2 separate regions of the Homo sapiens genome follow, and region 1 is linked to region 2. Evidence: fine-mapped expression QTL. Tissue or cell type: naive CD4 T cells. Region 2 holds a variant in brackets; the other region holds the start of a gene. All regions are shown on one strand. Distances are from middle to middle.

The links. PIP is the estimated chance that this variant, and not a neighbour inherited with it, causes the effect.
Region 1: LPAR2 starts here. The variant in region 2 is fine-mapped to the expression of LPAR2 in naive CD4 T cells (Schmiedel 2018, PIP 0.95).

The regions. Positions count from the first base shown.
Region 1 is chr19:19,627,055-19,629,663 of GRCh38, forward strand. LPAR2 (lysophosphatidic acid receptor 2) reads right to left here and starts at 1,166. Exons shown (of 3, transcript NM_001395660.1): 1 at 1,038-1,166; 2 at 1-230. The coding sequence starts at 221. GMIP (GEM interacting protein) reads right to left here. Exons shown (of 21, transcript NM_016573.4): 21 at 2,422-2,609. RefSeq lists silencers at 917-1,416, 1,787-1,916 and an enhancer at 1,554-2,476.
Region 2 is chr19:19,565,173-19,567,927 of GRCh38, forward strand. The region is part of intron 5 of PBX4 (PBX homeobox 4); the gene reads right to left. Among named protein-coding and RNA genes, the nearest start is that of CILP2, 28 kb to the left of the region's middle. The variant CT/C (reference allele first, on the strand shown) is at 1,528.

The sequences.
Region 1 (2,609 bases), 62 kb after region 2:
GCCGCGGCCAGATTGCCGAGCAGGTAGTAGATGGGCTGGTGGAAGCGGCGGTTGGAGGCGATGGCTGCTATGACCAGCAGATTGGTCAGCAGCACCAGCACGCTGACGGTCAGCCCCAGTGCCACCACGACCACATCCTTGGGCCGCCAGTGGGAGCTGAGCTCTTTGCCACTGTTGTTATAGAAGAAGCCGATGGTCTCGTTGTAGTAGCACTGGCCCATGATGACCATCTGGGGACACAAGAGATCAGTGCATGTGGCACTTCTTGGAAGGACACAGGGAGGGGCGGCAGCTGCAGAGGAGGGTCAGCGCAGGAAGGACAAGGGTCTCAAATTCAGATACCTCGAAGCAAAGTGGCAGTGGTGAGGACTACGGTGGCCTGGAAAAAGCAAGCTCCATGGGGCTGGGGTGGAGGTGGAGGAGCAGCTGTTTCTTACCTACTAATAAGACCTGTGTGCAAGACATCACCCAAGTCAATAGGTTTTTGAACCAGAAGTGAAACAAAACCCATCTATGGTCGAATCCCAGCCCACCTGCCGCCAATGTGTGACCCGGTTTGGGTTGTGGGGAGAGGAGGGTTAGGGAAAGACAAAGGGGTGTGAGCTGCGGGAAGAGATGAGGGAGGATCACTTTGGTGCCGGAGTCAGTGTAGGGAGCAGAGACCCGGGAGCGTGTGCACACAAGGGTGAGGTCACTTGCTAGAACCCTGCGAGGGGGCGGTGCCGAGGCGTGGAGGTGATCGGAGTGGACAGAGAGGCGGCCCCAGAAGTTAGTCGGCGGGATTTGGGCGCGAGTGCTTCCCAAGCGGGCGGGGCAATAGGCTGTTCCGGGTGGGACGGAGGACACTGGCGGTCTCCGGGACAAAGACAGCGGTTGGGGAAGGGATGGATGGCCGGGCCTCCAGGCGTCTCCAGACTGGGGAAGGGGTAGGGGGTTAAGGGATCAGAGGGCGGCGTCCTGGCCCCGCAGGCACGTGCCGCGCCCTTCCCCCGGGCCCAGGCCCGCACCCGCCCGCCTCCCGTCCGTGCAGGCCTCACCTGGGCCTCCAGTCACGCCGCAGACAAGGCGGGCTCGCGGGGGTTCGGGGCGGGCTCGAGGCCCATGGCCCGGCGACTGCGGCGGGAGCGGTAGAGCGTCCGGGTGCGCCCTGTGCGGGTTGCTGAGAGGGCGCGGGAGGCGGGGTCTCCCCGGCGCCCCGCCCCCACCACCTGGGGGAGCCCTGCCCCGCCCCGCCACCTGGGGGAGCCCCGCCTCCACGGCCGCGTCGGGGGCGGTGTCGCCCGGAACCGCAGCCCCCCTGTTTCCTCCCCGCCTCGCGGCCCCTCAGTCGCCCCTATTTCCGGCGCGGGACCCCCACCCCGGTACCTGCACACCTCATGCGCCCGCAGTTTCGAGCCTGCGGGGCTGAGTCACTCGGCGACCCGAAAATTCCCGCCGTGACCCCGCGCTGCCCGGGCGGAGCTCCAGGTGGTCTTGGGTCCGCGCCCCCGCTCCGGACCCCCAACCCTCCCAGCCCCACCCCGCTCTCTTCTTCGTGTCCAATCGGCCGCCGAGTTACAAGCCACTCCCTGATCCGACTTGGCTCCCACCGCCCGGACCCCCGCCCAGCTTCGGCTTTGCCAGCTCGCAGTATCAGCGAGCCGCGGCCTCCTGTGCGAGGCCCACCTCTGCGGCCCCAGCTGATCATCGGGCGCACGCTAGGGTTTTGCAATCCCGCCCCCGTACCCCTCACCCTGGGACAGCGCTGCCCCCTGCAAAGCCCGGCCCTGCCCTGCCCTGCCCTGTGGCTTCCTCCCTCGGCCTCCCTGCGGCGGCCCCGGGCTCCCACGGTCCGGAGCACACAGCCCCATTGTCCCGGTTATCGGTACTTTGTTATACTGTATTTGATTATGCAGGACCGGATCGGGGACGCAGAGCTCCGGGAGGGCCGGGCTGGCGTGACTCAGCCGGGTGCTGCGACCCAGCTCCAACTGCCTTTACGTAGGTGCTGCAGGGTGTTTGATGATGCAAGAAGGAGGCCTTGAGGCCGGGCGCAGTGGCTCACGCCTGTAATCCCTGCATTTTGGGAGGCCGATGCGGGACGATCACGAGATCAGGAGATCGAGACCATCCTGGCCAACATGCTGAAACCCCGTCTCTACTAAAAATACAAAAAAATTAGCCGGGCATGGTGGCAGGCGCCTGTAGTCCCAGCTACTCGGGAGGCTGAGGCAGGAGAATCGCTTGAACCCGGGAGGTGGAGGTTGCAGTGAGCGGAGATCGTGCCACTGCACTCCAACCTGGAGACAGAGCAAAACTCCGTCTCAAAAAAAAAAAAAAAAAAAAAAAAAAAAGAGGCCTTGATTCCCCTAATCTGTAAAATGGGGGCAAGGAGTGCTACCCATGCTGGCCTCTCCCCTAGCAGAGATGCACCCAAGGGCATATAGGACACAGTTTATTAGAGGCCATCAGACCTCAGGCACCACCAGCATGTGGAGTCTGAGCTGCCCACCTCCTCCAGGAAGGTCACTTCGAGTCCGTGAAGGAGGCAGGCAGGTGTGGGGGAGTGACCACAACCAAAGTAGCAAAAGCACCCCTGTCCCAGGTGTCAGAGACTAGGGTGGACCCCA
Region 2 (2,755 bases):
GTTGCTCCCACTGCCTTAGAAGACAACACTGCACCCTGGGGCTATGAAGAGTCTGGGACTGAGAAGGTGGCGCCCTCTGAACCACGGACCCAGGGAGATGTCCACATGGGTTGAGGACACCCTGGAGCTGGCGTGTCTTAGAACTCTGCTGCCTAAAACTGGATGTTGCTGGAACCTGAACCTGGGAAGGGGCTGGAAGGAAAACAAGACTGTCTGAGGTGGGCCGGGAGGGACAGCGCCTCTGGCTGCCATGCAGCAGGCGGCAGGTTACGTTCCGTGTTCTCTTCAGGAAAAGTGAGAGCCAGGGAGACCTGGGGACCCAGTAACTGCGATCGAATCCCAAACTTATCAAATGAAAACAAGGTGAACTCTGAAGGGGTAGTTGGAATGTACCAGGTGCTAGGATAAGCACTTCTCATATATTCATATATTTTTCTTAATTTTAATTAAAAAAAGGTTTTTTGGCCGGGCGTGGTGGCTCACGCCTGTAATCTCAGCACTTTGGGAGGCTGAGGTGGGGGGATCATCTGAGGTCAGGAGTTCGAGACCAGCCTGGACAACATGGAGAAACCCCATCTCTACTAATAATACAAATATTAGCTGGACACAGTGGCACATGCCTGTAATCCCAGCTACTCGGGAGGCTGAGGCAGGAGAATCACTTGAACCTGGGAGGCAGAGGTTGCAGTGAGCCAAGATCGCACTGCAATTTAGCCTGGGCAACAGAGTGAGACCCTGTCTCAGAAAAAAAAATATATTTTTTCTTTTTTTTTAGAGATAGGGTCTCGCTCTGTTGCCCAGGCTGGTCTCAAACCCCTGGGCTTGAGAGTTCCTCCCGCCCTGGCCTCCCAAAATGCTGGGATTCCAGGCCCAGCCTCATATATCATTCTGCCTCATCCTCATGAGGACCTGGGAGGCAGCTGTTATCGTCCCTGCTGTAAGAAAGCAGAGGCAGGAGAAAAAGGAGCTAGTCCATGGCCAAGGTGGAATCAGCCCAGCTCTGACTGCAAACTGGCACTGGAGTCCCCCAGGGAGGGGCTTGTCACCTTTGGTGGCACTGCTGATGCTTGGGCTCCATCTGCTCTGTGGGGGCTGTCCTGTACACTGCAGGGTGCTGAGCGGTATCCTTGGCACCCACTGGGTGCCAGGAGCACTTCCCTTCTCTAGTCGTGACAACAAAAATGTCCCCTGGGCAGATTCACATGGGTGAGCACCCCAGGGCCAGCGCCTTCCTACAGGCATGGAGACGTCCATCCAGGGCCACATTTCAGTATCCCAAAGCAAGTAAAATAAACGTATAGTATAATAACACACAGAAATGAAACAGCTGAGGGATGGAAGAGGATTGTGGATGACCTTTGCTACTTCAAACATTTTTTTCTCACTCTGTCACCCAGGCTGGAGTGCAGCGGTGCGATCTCAGCTCACTGCAACCTCTGCCTCCCAGATTCAAGTGATTCTCTTGCCTCAGCCTCACCAGTAGCTGGGACTACAGGCACGTGCTACCAAGCCTGGCTAATTTTTGTA[CT/C]TTTTTTTTTTTTTTTTTTCGGAGACGGAGTCTCACTCTGTCACCCAGGCTGGAGTGTGGAGTGCAGTGGTGCGACCTCAACTCACTGCAACCTCCGCCTCCCTGGTTCAAATGATTCTCCTGCCTCAGCCTCCCCAGTAGCGGGATTGCAGGCATGTGCCACCAAGCCTGGCTAATTTTTGTATTTCCAGTAGCCACGGGGTTTCACCATGTTGGCCAGGCTGGTCTCGAACTCCTGACCTCAGGTGATTCGTCCGCCTTGGCCTCCAAAGTGCTGGGATTTCAGGCATGAGCCACCATGCCTGGCCAACATTTGGTGTACTTACATTATCCTTGCAATGTTAAGTATAAAAAGAAGGATCCCTGTCTGTGTGCTCTCTGTTCCAAACATAGTGTCTGCCTACCCCGGGGGTGTGAGCAGCCTTCTCTTGATCCACATGGGAGGCCCCAGAGGCTCCATCCTGGTTGAAGCAGCCCTGGTTGTCCTCCAGACAATTGTTCCTTGGGGGCCAAATGTCTCACGCTTCTCCAGGGGCCTTGAAGACCCAGAGGCGCAGCCCCTTGCTCCAGCTCTGGCCTTGTTTCTGACACCACAGCAGATCCCGATGAGCAAAGTCATATGTGACTATGACCTCAGGATGTTTTGCTGCCTGCGTGACCCCGAGGGGTTCCAATTGCTCTCTGTCACAGAGACTTGACTGGACTTAGCCTGGGTTGGAGCAGAGCATGGTGGTGAAGGACTAGAAACTCAGCCCCTCCAACTGCAAAGTAGGGAGGGCTGTGGTGACATGCAGCAAGCCATGCTGTGGGTCAGCACCTGCCATTCCTGCTGCCATAGAGGCTGTGGGGCTGTGCCTGCCCAGGTGGGAGGGCGGCACCCAGGCCCTGTTCCACACACTCATGCTGCCACGGGGGTATGGCCTGGACCTGGCTTGCTGCCATAGGCTGCCTGGACTTACTGTTTCCATGTTAAAACCTTCGGAAATATTTCTTAGCCTCTTGGTCTTAGTGTCTCCCTCTTTCACCCCCAGTTCCACAGAGGACACTGGTGGCTGCCTACCAGGCTATAGAGTCAGGGAGCTCACACTCTCTACCACGTCACCTCAGGGGGCTCACACTCCACAGCATCCCCCAGGGAACTCACACTCCATCTCAATCACCTCAGGGAGCTCACACTCCATCTGTATCCCTCAGGGAGCTCACACCCCACCTGTATCCCTCAGGCAG